Regions from separate parts of the Homo sapiens genome. Here region 2 is linked to region 1. Evidence: fine-mapped expression QTL. Tissue or cell type: fibroblasts. Region 1 holds a variant in brackets; the other region holds the start of a gene. All regions are shown on one strand. Distances are between the middles of the regions.

Region 1 (8,206 bases):
CCCATCCACCTCAGCCCGTGGAAATCACTCATCTACTCTCCAGTTACATGAATCAACTTGTTTAGATTCCACATACGTGTGAGATTATGTGATAATTGTGCTCCTGTGCCTGGCTTATTTCACTTAACACAGTGTCCTCCAGGTTCATTCATATTGTTGCAATTGGCAGAAGATATCTACATTCTGATGTTTATTGCAGCACTATTCACAACAGCCAAGATATTGGAATGAATCTAAGTGTCGAAAATGAAGGAATGGATAAAGAAAATGTGGTAAATATACATAGTGGAAAGCTATGTATAGTCATAAAAATAATGAATTTTGTTTTTTGTCCATGGGCAAGTTGATTGGCTGAAAACTACAAAGAAAGAAGGACCGTTTTCCTTGGAGCAGGCTGACAAGATTTATCAGAGAAAGCAAATTTAATTATTAATGGGTTGCTTGAGAAACTTTATGATTTCAGCTGTGGAGTATATTCAATTGCTGTCTCTGTGTAACACAGCCTGGGCTCTTTCGTTGGCTTTCCTACCTTAGTTAAACCTAGACTGCACCACTTTCCTCACTATAAATCCTCATGGGACAGTGTTGAACTTTTCCTGATTCCTTGCAGGTTTTATTTCATTTTGTTTTGATATTAAGATCCTACAACTTTAATACATATTAACACTGTGTTTGTTATTATAAGAATAAATACATTTCAGGTTATAAAATAGCTATTAAAACTAGATTCTACTTACTATGTTAAATCATACAAATGCTTCTATGTTTCACTTGTGTGATTTTGGAGCAGTGATGGCCATCAGAGTCACTATACTTGAAACATGAAACTTGCTTTAATCGTACTATTAGCTTCTAATATTATAATAAGACAATAAATGATGTCATATTATTTAAGTCTTTTTATTTTGTATCATATTTACTGCATAGAGATGTCATGAGGATTAAAAGAGTTAATACAACAATTGCCATGTAAATGTTAGCTATTATTACACAATTATAATAAATATTTTAAGAAGGAAGGTCAAGAGAATATACAATAATTTGGCAAAACTATGTCAACTGCATAGGCGGATTTATATCAGTGAGGTACTAGGTAATAGAGGGAAAGAAATTCACTATACTTTTGAATTAAAATTTCAAGCACTATTTTAATATCTTTTTGGAAGAGGCTAATTTAAGGGGATCTCATGGATAGTCCTTTTAAAGGCATGTCTGTGTATAGTGGGTATTCCCATGTTTCAATTCTTATAAATTTTCCCAATAAAATATTTTTTAATTTGTCTTCTCCACTCCCCCAGTTTGACCCGGAATTGATAAACTTTAAATACAATGAAGATATGTTTATCAGAAAAATATTTTACTCTGCTTAATTTCTTAATGTAATAAAATATATATCACCAAAAATATTGTCATTTTAAACATTTTTCAGTTGCAATTCAGTGTCATTAACTAAATTCACAGTGTTGTACAACCATACCATTATTTCCAAACACTCTTCATCACCCAGACAGAAACTCTGTACCCATTAAGCAATAACTCTCCATTCCTCACTTCCACTAGCCCCTGGTAACCTCTACGCTACTTCTTCTCTCTATGACTTTGACTATTCTAGATACTTAATGTAAGTGCAATTTTTGTCCTTTTGGGTCTGGCTTATTTCACTTAGTATAATGTTTTTTGAGGTTCATCAGTGTTGTGGCATGTATCAGGATCATTTCTTTTTATGGCTGAATTATATCCCATAGCATGTATAGACCACATTTTGCTTATCCACTCATATATTGATGGATGTTTGGGTTGTTTCCACCTTTTGGCTACTGTGAATAGTGCTGCAATGAACATTTTTGTGCAAGTATTGGTGTGAGTTTTTGTTTTTAATTATTTTGAATATATACTGAGGAATGGAGTTGCTGGCTCCTATGAACTGTTTCAGTTTCTAAATCTAAATTAGTTAAAATTATGTTAAATTAAAAATTCAGTCCCTTAGTTATGCTAGCCATATTTCGAGAACTCTTTAGTCACATACAGCTAATGATTACCATATTGGTCAGTGCAGGTCTGGATTAATAATTTGATGAATATCTTTATAATAAATCTACTAATTGTGCCCATTTTCTCTACTGCTCAAATAAGCCTTGTTCTTCCTGCTTTTGTGCTTTGGTTTACCTTTCCTGAGGTCATACTTCTTTTTGCCTGGGATATCTACCTATTCTCTATTTTCTTTTATAGAAATGTTATCTGTTTCAGAAAGTATTCTTTATTACTGCAGCTCACACTGATCATTCCTACTCATAAACTGTCAAAGCATTTGTTAACTTTATTATTTCCATGACATTTACTTGCATTATACTGTAGTTATTTATTTCTTTGTTTCTTATCTGGATTAAAATTCCTTATTGGCAAAGCTAATAATAAAAACAAGAACTACATCAGCAAAACAAAACTAGTCATTTATTAAATGATTGCAGTTCCTCAGGCACAGTGTTGTTTTATACACTCCATTTCATTTACTTCTTAAAACAGAAAGGAAGTAGTATTATCTGAATTCTAAATCAGGATTTTGGGTTTACAGGCTAAGTATCATGTTTAAATCCCTATATCTAGCAAATGGTAGAGTCAGAATTCAAACTCAGGTATGTCAGATGCTCTTACAAGTCTGCTTATACTTTATAAATATTACTTTGGGAAATCTTTATAAATAATATTATCTAACATTTACTTATTGTTTACTCTGTGCCAGATCTTATTGTAAGTGCTTTTCTTGTATATAATATCTTAATTCTTATAACAGTCTTAGGAAGTGTGAGCTGTAATCACCATCATTTTATATATATGATAACAGTTCAGAAAAGTTAAGTTTCACAAGCCAGACACAAAAAGCCTAACATCGCATGTTCTCACTCATACGTGGAAGCTAAAAAATGTGTAAACATGGATGTAGAGAGTGAAATGATAGGCAAAGGAGACTCCGAGGGGTGAATGGGTGGGTGTGGCAGGGGTGCATGATGAGGAATTACTTAATGGGGAAAATGTATGTTATTCAGGTGATGGATACCCTGAAGCCTTGACGTTACAATTACACGATCTATGAATGTAACAAATTTACACTTGTACCCCATAAATTTAAACAAGTTAAAAATAAATACATAAATAATCCCTCCCCAAAGTTAAGTTTCATACCTATTAAATGGCAGAGTCAAGATTTGGACTGAGTGTAAATCAGAGCTTGCATTTTTTTTTTATTATTATTATACTTTAAGTTTTAGGGTACATGTGCACAATGTGCAGGTTAGTTACATATGTATACATGTGCCATGCTGGTGTGATGCACCCATTAACTCGTCATTTAGCATTAGGTGTATCTCCTAATGCTATTCCTCCCCCCCTCCCCCCACCCCACAACAGTCCCCAGAGTGTGATGTTCCCCTTCCTGTGTCCATGTGTTCTCATTGTTCAATTCCCACCTATGAGTGAGAACATGCGGTGTTTGGTTATTTGTCCTTGCAATAGTTTACTGAGAATGATTTCCAATTTCATCCATGTCCCTACAAAGGACATGAACTCATCATTTTTTATGGCTGCATAGTATTCCATGGTGTATATGTGCCACATTTTCTTAATCCAGTCTATCATTGTTGGACATTTGGGTTGATTTCAAGTCTTTGCTATTGTGAATAGTGCCACAATAAACATACGTGTGCATGTGTCTTTATAGCATCATGATTTATAGTCCTTTGGGTATATACCCAGTAATGGGATGGCTGGGTCAAATGGTATTTCTAGTTCTAGATCCCCGAGGAATCGCCACACTGACTTCCACAATGGTTGAACTAGTTTACAGTCCCACCAACAGTGTAAAAGTGTTCCTATTTCTCCACATCCTCTCCAGCACCTGTTGTTTCCTGACTTTTTAATGATTGCCATTCTAACTAGTGTGAGATGGTATCTCATTGTGGTTTTGATTTGCATTTCTCTGATGGCCAGTGATGGTGAGCATTTTTTCATGTGTCTGTTGGCTGCATAAATGTCTTCTTTTGAGAAATGTCTGTTCATATCCTTCGCCCACTTTTTGATGGGGTTGTTTGTTTTTTTCTTGTAAATGTGTTTGAGTTCATTGTAGATTCTAGATATTAGCCCTTTGTCAGATGAGTAAGTTGCGAAAATTTTCTCCCACTTTGTAGGTTGCCTGTTCACTCTGATGGTAGTTTCTTTTGCTGTGCAGAAGCTCTTTAATTAGATCCCATTTATCAATTTTGTCTTTTGTTGCCATTGCTTTTGGTGTTTTAGACATGAAGTCCTTGCCCATGCCTATGTCCTGAATGGTAATGCCTAGGTTTTCTTCTAGGGTTTTTATGGTTTTAGGTCTAACATTTAAGTCTTTAATCCATCTTGAATTCATTTTTGTATAAGGTGTAAGGAAGGGATCCAGTTTCAGCTTTCTACATATGTCTAGCCAGTTTTCCCAGCACCATTTATTAAATAGGGAATCCTTTCCCCATTGCTTGTTTTTCTCAGGTTTGTCAAAGATCAGATAGTTGTAGATATGCGGCGTTATTTCTGAGGGCTCTGTTCTGTTCCATTGATCTATATCTCTGTTTTGGTACCAGTACCATGCTGTTTTGGTTACTGTAGCCTTGTAGTATAGTTTGAAGTCAGGTAGCGTGATGCCTCCAGCTTAATAGCTTACCAACCAAAAAGAGTCCAGGACCAGTTGGATTCACAGCCGAATTCTACCAGAGGTACAAGGAGGAACTGGTACCATTCCTTCTGAAACTATTCCAATCAATAGAAAAAGAGGGAATCCTCCCTAACTCATTTGAGGAGGCCAGCATCATCCTGATACCAAAGCCGGGCAGAGACACAACCAAAAAAGAGAATTTTAGACCAATATCCTTGATGAACATTGATGCAAAAATACTCCATAAAATACTGGCAAAGCGAATCCAGCAGCACATCAAAAAGCTTATCCACCATGATCAACTGGGCTTCATCCCTGGGATGCAAGGCTGGTTCAATATA[C/T]GCAAATCAATAAATGTAATCCAGCATATAAACAGAACCAAAGACAAAAACCACATGATTATCTCAATAGATGCAGAAAAGGCCTTTGACAAAATTCAACAATGCTTCATGCTAAGAACTCTCAATAAATTAGGTATTGATGGGACATATCTCAAAATAATAAGAGCTATCTGTGACAAACCCACAGCCAATATCATACTGAATGGGCAAAGACTGGAAGCATTCCCTTTGAAAACTGGCACAAGACAGGGATGCCCTCTCTCACCACTCCTATTCAACATAGTGTTGGAAGTTCTGGCCAGGGCAATTAGGCAGGAGAAGGAAATAAAGGGTATTCAATTAGGAAAAGAGGAAGTCAAATTGTCCCTGTTTGCAGATGACATGATTGTATATCTAGAAAACCCCATTGTCTCAGCCCAAAATCTCCTTAAGCTGATAGGCAACTTCAGCAAAGTCTCAGGATACAAAATCAATGTGCAAAAATCACAAGCATTCTTATACACCAATAACAGACATACAGAGAGCCAAATCATGAGTAAACTCCCATTCGCAATTGCTTCAAAGAGAATAAAATACCTAGGAATCCACTTTACAAGGGACATGAAGGACCTCTTCAAGGAGAACTACAAACCACTGCTCAATGAAATAAAAGAGGATACAAAGAAATGGAAGAACATTCCATGCTCATGGGTAGGAAGAATCAATGTCGTGAAAATGGCCATACTGCCCAAGGTAATTTATAGATGCAATGCCATCCCCATCAAGCTACGAATGCCTTTCTTCACAGAATTGGAAAAAACTACTTTAAAGTTCATATGGAACCAAAAAAGAGCCCGCATCGCCAAGCCAATCCTAAGCCAAAAGAACAAAGAGCTTGCATTTTAAGTAATCATATTATTTATAAACTTTATTCAACAAACATTTGTTGAGTAATTACTATGTCCCAGACACCATGCTGAATACTAGGGATTTAAAGATGAATAGATCAGAGTGTGTGTATAGCTTTTCCAGTTTAGCCTGCTAAAATGAACAAACAAGAAATATTTGTCATTGGTATAAAAGTTATTAATCACAACTACTACCAGCACCACCAAATAATAATGAGGGCTTGCTGTTTTCGGGAACTGTTTTAAGTGTTTTGCAGACACTAATTGATTTAGCCTCACAGCAACTTTTAAAGATCACCATTATTATTGTTGTTTTTATTTTTTAGATCAGAAACTGATCAGCAGAGATGTTAGGTAACTTGTCTGAGCCAGAAGCAGAAGGACTAACTTATGAACATAAGCAATTTGGCTCTAGAACTCAAGTGCTCAAATATTCCCTGTGGGTAATAGAGTCTTAGTTTTTCTGGAGCGTGAACAAGTGCCATTATATAGAACACATTTAAACCTGACTCTTGAAAAACAATTTCAGGAGCATGGAAAAACAGGAATGATAGTCATTCTGCAATGAGATTTTAAAAGGTGCAGTTTCTAGAATGGTCAGCAGAGGGTGAAGGGAGGCAGCATTTGTAAGATGCCACTTCATTACAATGGAGTAAACTGTGTGGAACTGATCATCTCTAAAGTTCTCTCTTGCTCTAACATTTCAGGATGATCCTTGTTTGAATTATTTTTAGTTTAATGTTACACAACACAAGCAAAAAAAAAAAGAAGTAGCTCCTTCTGAAATACATATAGCTGAGATGATTTTTTTATCTGAGTTAGCACAGCATTTGTTTCAATATTTATTGAATATTTTATAAGAATGTCTCTAAAGAAGTAAGTATAAGATGATCCATAAAGAGCTCAAGTCTGTACTGAAGAGGCAAGGTAAAGAAAAATTTACATGATGACATAAGCATCATATGAACAAAGTTTCAGAGTTCAGAGACACGGAGAAAATAATGGGGCTGAAATAGAAGGGAATTCTTCATGGAAAAGGTAGCCTTATCCAGGACTGAAGGGTGGGTAATATGTGCACAGGAAGGGAAAAGTTGGCTTCTCCTTAAAATTAAATTTCCCAAGTGCTTATGATTTGTCGTCAGTGACTCCAGGCACTGCAGAGAAAATAAGGATGAGTGATACTGTCCAGGCAGGGTGGCTCATCCATGTAATCCAGCACTTTGGGAGGCCAAGGCTGGCAGATTGTTTGAGCTCAGGAGCTTGAGGCCAGCCTGGGCAACATGGCAAAAACTCTACAAAAAATACAAAAATTGGCTGGGCGCAGTGGCTCATGTCTGTAATCCCAGCGCTTTGGGGGGCCAAGGCAGGTGGATCACCTGAGGTCAGGAGTTCAAGACTGGCCTGGCCAACATGGTGAAACGCCGTCTCTACTAAAAATACAAAAATTAGCTGGGCGCAGTGGAGTGTGCCTGTAATCCCAGCTACTCGGGAGGCTGAGGCAGGAGAATCGGGAGGCAGAGTTTACAGTGAGCTGAGATTGCGACATTGCACTCCAGCCTGGGTGACAGAGCAAAACTCTGTCTCAAAAAAAAAAAAAAAAAAAAAAAAATTAGCCAGGTGTGGTTGTGCATGCCTATAGTCCCAGCTACTTGGGAGACAGAAGTGAGAGGATGGCTTGAGCCCAGGAGGTGGAGGTTGCAGTGAGATGAGATTAGGCTGCTGCACTCCAGTCTAAGTGACAGAGTGAGACCCTGTCTCCAAAAAAAGGAGTGATATTGTCTCTGTCTTAGGGAAGTCACAGATACCCTAGCAGTAATAATACAAGAAAGGATATGGTAGACAACAAGATGCACTGTTGGAAAAGTTAACAACAAAACAATATGTTTCCCATTCTAAAGAGAGGAACCAGACCATTCATGTTGAACTTTCAAAGGTCAAGGTTCTAAACTAGTTCTGCCAGCTGCAGTGATTCACTCCTCTCTAGTCTACATAAGAAGTTGAGGTTGAAGAGAAAGAGATTTATTTGGTGAGAAATTGACAGTGTTTTACATTTCACCCACCTTAAGTACCAGCCTCTGATGGAGAAGTGGATGTATTTTTTGATGGTACAAATACCCTAAATAGACACTGCAGAGCATGCTCGGAGAAGTGGAAATTGCCTCAGTGCTGGCACAGCAAGAATTTCAGACCCTGAAGAATATGGCTCCCCGGATAGGCGACTTAATGCCTTCTGTTGGTGTTCTAAGTTGTTTCTGAGTATTGACATAGTTGGGGACCTGAAAGACAGCGAGTCCATGTCT
Region 2 (8,179 bases), 89 kb before region 1:
TGAGTACAGCAACTGGTTTGACCATACTCATAGTTTTTAAAGTCATCACTATTTAAATGCCTTCAATCATAATTTAAATAAGCCAATTATCAGTTATATAAATTCCTATTACAGAGGAGATGTTTTTAAAAAGTAATGAAAATAAAGTCAGTGGTATTTATACTACTGAAGTGGAGGGTTTAGGACAAACAACAGTCAAGGGTAGTAGTAGATGTAGGACCACTATTCTGGGTATCTTACAAGCTCCTAGGACATTAATGGTTGGAGAGTTGGGGTGGGGAGAACGATAGGCTGGAAGTGAACATACTGTGTTCAAGAGTTGCCTAGTCCATCAACTTTGATACCCTGTCACTGTGAGCCTCCCATGCATGCCTCTGGAAACCTTCCCCTCAGAGGATCTCATTTTTTAGGATACCCCACTCTAACAAAACAAATTAGCATAAAACCATGTTCTGTATTTTCTGCTGTCTACAGGGATTCTTACAATGTTCTGAGCAAGGAGTCACCAAACCAGTGCAGCCACATCATGCTGTCTATTGCCGCTTTCACAGCAGATCTAAGTAGTTACCACAGAGACCATCTGGTTCACAAAGCCAAAAACATGTACTATCCGTTCCTTTACAAACACGTTTGCCATCCCTCTTCTAAACTACTAATACACTACTTGTCTTAGGATCTGAAATATAGTCATATTTCTTCAAAGGAACATATAAAGAAACAAACAATCAAATATACATATATTATTGTTTTGCAACCCATTTTTATATTCATGACAGTTTAATGGATACAAAAGTAAAAATTTGCATTTATTAAAGCTGCCAAACTGGGAACCACAATGGTGTTCTTGAGTAAAGGTTTCAGGACAGTCAAAATTACACAATTTTCACTGTAAAAGATTTTAATTGAACTATCCAGCAATTTTAACAAGCTTAGATACTAAGAGAAAAGAGCAGCTGAAGAATATACTAAAGTTTCTTTATTTAAATTCTTATGTTTTTCAAAATCCGTAAAAAGAAACTGTCTTTGTAGATGACAATTTCAACTTATAAAAGACGAATTCCTACATGTAAGGTGACAATATAATTAAGAGTGTCAAATATTTGTAATTGAAACAGTGCTTTCCAAATAACATACCTCATACTACAGTAATAAAAACATACAGAGTATGAAAACTCGCATTTTCTTTGCATCTTCATTAATTTTATTTTGAAAGTGAAACAGTGCCAGGTGGGGTGGCTCATGCGTGTAATCCCAGCACTTTGGGAGGCTGAGGTGGGCGGATCACGAGGTCAGGGGTTTGAGACCAGCCTGACCAACATGGTGAAACCCCATTTCTACTAAAAATACAAAAATTAGCCAGGTGTGGTGGCACGCACCTGTAGTCCCAGCTACTCGGGACGCTGAGGCAGGAGAATCGCTTGAACCCGGAAGGCGGAGGTTGCAGTGAGCCTAGACTGCACCATTGCATTCCAGCCTGGGTGACAGAGCAAGACTCCGTCTCAAAAAAAAAAAAAAAAAAAAAAGTGAAACAGTTTCTCTGGTGCTTATTGTCCAGCAGTCACAGACCAAATCTACTCTGATTTACAGTCGCGTTACACAGGTTAATTCACTGAATCCCAGGTCAAGTCTAGGATTAAGCCATTACTTTTATTCCACTTTCGCATGTGAAGAAACGAAGGCTCAGAAAGTCAACTAAATTAGGCAAAGTCACTCTACTATTAGTGCAACCAGGATTCTAACATTTACTATCAAGAGCGCATGCTATTAACCACCTTGCTATACTGATCTTTCTGTTAGTATCCTAATTGGTCACTAGGTTCCATAACAAAGGAAAACATTCCACAAAAATCAGAACAAAAAACCTGACTCTATTATAAATGCGTTTTTAAATACCATGCACAAAAGTCAGAACTCAAACCAGGTTAAATGGTCTACTGAGGGACTTTTTTTTTTTTTTGACAGAGTCTCCCTCTGTCACCCAGGCTAGAGTGCGGTGGAGAGATCTCCGCTCACTGCAGACTCAGCCTCCTGGGATTACAGGCATATGCTACCATGCCCAGCTAATTTTTCCTATTTTTAGTAAAGACAGGGTTTCCCTGCTTTGGCCAGGCTGGTCTCGAACTCCTGGCCTTAAGTGATCAACCCGCCGAGGCCTCCCAAGGTGCTAGGATCACAACCGTGAGCCGCCGCACCTGGCCAACCGAGGGAATTTAAATAGGGAAAAAGTCACTTCACATGTGACTGTTCAGGAAAATATGTTACATAGAACAAAGTGCAAAGGTTGCTATTACCAGAATACAATGCCCATCAACCTGTTAATTACATAACAAAGTTAGCCAGTTAATTAGAGAGGTGGTTTGCAAATAGAAAACAGAAACAGCACGGGATCTGGAGTTATAATTGCTGAATGTGAATCTAGGTTCCACAACCATATTTGTGGCCGTAGACAGGTTTACAAACTGCTTATAGCTTCCGTTCAAAACCAAAAAATGGGACTAATCTCACTGCGTATTTTCGGACGATTAAAGTACGATAATGTTTTGAAAGCCTAATGCTATATAACTATTGGTTTTATTACTTCGGGCTCTCTGTCTAGAACAATGAAATTCCAAATATCGAAACAGCACCACTAGAATTGAACACTTTTGTGCATTTCTTGGGAATATAAGAGTGTCAGTTTTATGGGTTAAAGAAGAGAAAAAGGGTGTAAGTTTTCTATATCAGGTTTTTTTTAGATCCTTCCTTGGAGGTTGAGAAATCTGCTTTTCTGGTGTAGGAGTTAAAAATAGCTGAAATCTCCCAATTTCTGCCTTCACTGCACATTAACTTGCATAACACCAGCAAAACATGGGCAGCAATTCTTTAGGATTATTCTAAAACCGCAGCTTTTTTGGTCCAAGACATAACTTTAACTTAATTTTAAGTGACATCTAAATGGCAGTGGTGTGAACATATCAAGAATATTTAAGATACCAAAATTCATCTAGTGACAAACTTATTTAGAATCTATTAAGATCCAATACTAGAATATACACACAAGTTCACATAAAATTCTGCAGGTTTTTTTTTTACTTTTTTTTTTCCCGTAAGCAACGTGGAAACGTTACAACGAAAAGCTTATTAAACATTAAGTATTTCAAGGAGTAGCTGCTCCATTTTTCTTTTTCCCGTGGTTCTGACACAGAGACGGGGTCACTTTGGAAAAAGGTGGGATTCCCGCGGTAAATATTTGGAGGGTTTACCAGAGAAAGAAAAACGATATTCTAAAGAGAGGATGCCGGCTATAACGGGGTCGCCTGACGGGAGGATACGGAAAATGAAACGCTAGGCTACGTTCCGTCCGGTGGTAGGAGGCGTGAAAGCAGGTTGGGGGCCCCTAGGCTGGCTCCTTCCTCAGCCCGACTTCCCACTCCTCCCGGCCGCACCTATTTTTGGCCCAGGGCCCCCTGCTCCGACACCACAATACCCATGTTCCAGCCCCACCGCACCGCTGGGCTCCCTCTCACCCTGCAGCATCGCCCGAACCCCGCTGCCATGTTGGCTCCCGTTCCGGCCACTCGGACAATAATACACGGGTCACGGCCTTGACATACTCCCCGAACGCGGGACTCCTCTGGTCCCGCCCACTGGAGCCCGTGGGCGGGATGGGGCGGGGCGGGAAGAGGCGGTTGGGCTGCGGAAGGACGGGGCGCTGCGCTAGGCGGGGTGGCAGCGGTCCCCGGCGCCGGGTAGCCAACGCATGCTCCGTGACCCTTGCGTGCGCCGTCGCTGCGACCTGGGGAGGGGTCGCATCCCCTCTCCGGGCAATCTCTGATAGTCCTGGTTTGGTTTTCTGCGTTTCCACCTCTGGCCCTCTCTGTGGGACGCCGAGGCTGACCGCAGCGCGGAAAGAGAGCCAGGGCGGGGGAGGGGGACGGCGGCGGGGCTGGGAGGGCCCGGTTGCGCTGAACGGTGGGGGGACTTGCGGCGCGGTGCAGGACGGGAACCTGGGTTAGAGGGCGTGGCTGGGGCCTGGAGGGAGAGCGGCCCCCGTGGTCAGCCTTCACCTTTACCCGGAGAGAACGGTCAAACCCAGATCGTGTCTGCTTGGCGGATTCAAAGTATTAGTACATTTTGCTCTCAAATGCCCTACCTAAAGCGAAAGCATACTTGTGTTTCCTTAAAATTTAAAAGAGAATTTAATTGTTTAGGTAAATTTGACCTTTCCGCGTATTCCCAAGGCTGTTTATGACTTGTCCGCTGATGTGGTGTCCTTGGATATGCGGGTGCAATCCGAGGCTGTCCAAAGCTCCTGGTTCAGCGAATGATGGAAGTGAATGTCTCCCTGAGGAATTCTACCTGGAGTCACTTTCTCTTCCAGTGAGACCCTGAGTTTTGAGATGGTAGCTTATACTAAATCTTATACTAACTTAACATTTTCTTTTGCCCAATAAAGGTCACCCATAAATTCATCTAATTTAGCTGTTAAAATTCTATATCCTGTTATTGTATTCCCCTACTTTGTCTTCTGGGAATTTATAGTGTGTTAGTCCTAGGTACAAGGCAGAATGTTAATTAAGCGCTATATTCAAAGTGAAAGTACCAGGAAAATTCGGAAAAGGGATAAAGAGCTGAGTTTGTCCTGGTATAGGCAAGAAAGCCTTCAAAGTGGTGGTGGTAAGTAAAACACAAAGCGGACTCTTAAAGATGATTAGGAATTGTCTATTCATGTCTCCTTTGTTCCAATTTCTTATTCTGAACATTTTAAACACAGAAAAGATGAACGAAAAGCACAAAATCACCCATATGCCTATTGTAACCCCTTCTTACTGTACACGTGGCTGGCAGAGAAGCGAAGATGGAGCCCTCATCTTAAACATGTCTAGTCGGTAGTTCCTGCCACCATTCACCCAAGCAAGCTACCCCCTTGTTTGTCTGTGCCTGCAGCTCGACTTCACAGGCTGCTCTTAGAAAAGGATTTGGGGCTGCTTTTCATTAAAAAGAAAAGCCTTACTGATGTTGGGAACGGGCGCTCAGTGTTGCAAAAATCAACACTGAGACAAAGGAGCTCTTAGCAAGGCTAGTTTACTTTCTGCAGAAAGGTTGCCGCTCGCTAGTAGTCTTGCCACGAGAGCACACACGCATAAAGGAGACAGGGTCATTTATAACCTGACACGTGCACCCTACTACCGTGTCCGGTTTCCATTGGCTGGAAGGGGACCTCTGTACTTGTCCTGATTGGCTAGCAACTTAGAACTTTCCAAAAGAGGCAAAGACAGAGGAGAACAAAGGAAGGAGGAAGCAACTTGTGGAATGCTGAGAAAGGTAAAAACACCTCCAGATAAGGAAGAAAACAGGCTATGGCCTAATGCTTCCTTGGACCAGTATAAGCATGCCAGGGCAAATATCTAGGCTAAAATGTGGCAGCTAAGAGCACAAAGTACATTGATTTCTTTATTACGGCCAACAGATATCAAAGAATGTTAGTGTGGCCAACTGCCACGGTTACTACTTGAGACCATCGTTACAGCAGTTACTACTGTTACTGCTTGAGACCATCATTGTGAGATCAAATGAAGGGACGAACGTAGAAATGATAACTTAAGACAAAAGGAACTGTTTTAAGGAAAGGGCCAGGGGAAGAAGAAGAGAGCTCCCTGCTTCTCGTGAGCAAAGGCAGCCACAGAGCTTCCACAGCCCTTCCTATTTTTTGGGTAACAGGAGCAGGGAGGAGGTGGTAACGATTGGTCAGCTGCTTAATTGATCACAGGTTCATATTGTTACTGACAGGCTTCAATTATGCCTAATCATAAGAAACATTTGTGCCTAGATCGTAACTACCCTCAGCAGTCCTCCTGGGTGGCATACGCAGTTTGTCAGTTCGCCAACGTTCTGCATTTATGAGAAACAGTTTGCTGCTTACTCATATAGCCTCCAGTGATATACTGAGTTGATCACGAACCTCATTGTTTCGGCCTCCAATATGTTAGCACAGTTCTTTGAATAAATTTTGCTTTTAAGAGAAGTTACTGTTTATTCCTAATTAGACGGAAAGGAAAGTCCATTTGAAGAGGAACCTCTACTTCACTTTTTACACTGAGGACTCCCATACTCGTACTATCGGCCTGAGTAATTTCTTCTCAATATCATTATCACCTAGATTCAAATATTTTTCCATATTTATTTATATATTTATATGTGTACCTATGTGTGTGTGTTTTGGTTGTTGGTTTTATTTTTCTCAGATCTGTAGGTTGTAGATAAGACACTTCAGTTCAGAATACTTTAGCTATATGTCTCCTACAAGGACATTTTCCTATATAACCATTTCCTATAAAACCTTTATCACATCAATGAAAATTAACAATTATTCGCTACTATTATTTAAGGTCCAGAGAATATTTACATTTCTCCAGTTGTCCAGTTGTCTCCAGAATACCTTTTGTAAATAGTTTGTTTTTGAACCAGGATCCTATGAATGATTGCCCATTGAAGTTGGGCTTTAACTTTCTTTGGCTTCTTTTAATCTAAAGCTTTTAATCTAATTCATTTTTCCCAATAATAACTGTCTTTTTAAACAAATTTAAGATACCAAGCAGTTGTCATGAAGAATGCCCTAATGCTGGATTGTCCGATTTTATTTATTTTGTACCTCTAGATTTTGTATTTCCTATCAGTTGCAAGTTACCAGAGGCTTGAGGAGTTCAGATTAAACATTGGATAAGGATACTTCAAAGGTCATACTGTGTAGTTAATATTGTATTACATTAGGAGGCATTTAATATCAGATTTGTCCCACTATTGGTGATGGTGTAAGCCAGCAGTGTCCAATCTTTTGGCTTCCCTGGGCCACACTGGAAGAAAAAGAATTGTCTTGGGCTATACATAAAATACACTAACACTAATGTTAACTGATAAGCTACAAACCAAAACAAAAACGCAAGAAAATTTCATAACGTTTTAAGAAAGCTTACAAATTTATGTTGGGCTGCATGCAAAGCTGTCCTGAGCTGCATGTGGCCTGTGGGTTGCATGTGGTCTGTGGGCAGCAGGTTGGACAAGCTTGCTGTAAACCAAAAACAAAATTCTAAATTCCCCCCAACTATCTGAATGGACTTTCTCGTAGGCTAGGGCACTCTAAAATTTAAATTTAACCTGAAAGACTACTTCAGGCCATGATGGGAAGTGGGGGTTGGACATGCCTCTTTATACCTCAGTGATGTTAACATCAACACAGACCTTAAGTCTGATAAGAAACATTTACAATCTCTTCTCTCTGAAGGAGAGAGATAACAGAATGCTTTTCTGTTCTCACCTGAAGGCTTCCTTTGCACAATAAGAACTTTGGTCTCCACAATCCTTTAATCTTAACCCAGACATTTCCTTTCTGTTGGTTCCAGGTCTTTAGATAAACTTAACCAAGTGTCAGCCAGAAAATGTTTAAATCTGCCTATAACCTGGAACCTCCCCCCGCCTACCCCCCCAGCTCCACCCCTGCTTCAAGTTGTCCTGTCTTTCTGAACTGAACCAATGTATTTCTTAAATGTATTTGATTGAAGTCTCATATTTCCCTAAAATATATAAAACCAACCTGCACCCCAACCACCCTGAGCACATGTTCTCAGGATCTCCCAAGGACTGTGTCGTGGGCCATGATCACTCATATTTGGCTCGGAATAAATCTCTTCAAATATTTTACAAAGTTTGACTCTTTGTTGACAATGCTATTTGATCATTTGATTATTGACAGACAGTTCTTTCTATGGTAAAGTTATAGTTTTCCCTTTGCAATTAGGAAGTAATTTATAGGGTAATATTTGGCATCATGCCAAACAATCTTTCATCTACATTTTTGCCAGTAGTAGGAATAGAACCATCTCTCAAGAAATACCTTTTTATTAATTAAGCACTGTTTCACAAAACTTCTCTACATTTTTAGGTGAAATAATTCGAACGTCTCCCTGGTGTTCCTTCTCCCTAACCCATCTATTTCAAGGTAAGCAGGACTATACAGACCTACGCTCCAAAGTCTAAGGAAGCTGAGAGGCTAAAGAAAGAGGCTGACACATTAACGTTTCTCAAAAAGAAACATTTAATGGAGACTTAAAAACAGAAGCCCTGTCTGCATCTCAGGCGGCAGTGAGACAAGATGGTGGATCCCAGTGCCATTACCCCTCAGACCCAGGGGTTGTATACCACA

The links. PIP is the estimated chance that this variant, and not a neighbour inherited with it, causes the effect.
Region 2: ACADM starts here. The variant in region 1 is fine-mapped to the expression of ACADM in fibroblasts (GTEx, PIP above 0.99). The same link has a PIP of 0.9 or more in prefrontal cortex, testis and thyroid.

What each region holds. Positions count from the first base shown.
Region 1 is chr1:75,630,849-75,639,054 of GRCh38, reverse strand. It overlaps a transcript of SLC44A5 not described here. Among named protein-coding and RNA genes, the nearest start is that of SLC44A5, 24 kb to the right of the region's middle. The variant C/T (reference allele first, on the strand shown) is at 5,020.
Region 2 is chr1:75,720,145-75,728,323 of GRCh38, reverse strand. ACADM (acyl-CoA dehydrogenase medium chain) reads right to left here and starts at 3,615. Exons shown (of 12, transcript NM_000016.6): 1 at 3,507-3,615. The coding sequence starts at 3,536. It also overlaps a transcript of SLC44A5 not described here. RefSeq lists enhancers at 3,400-3,489, 4,140-4,229, 7,962-8,179 and silencers at 3,620-3,669, 3,720-3,769.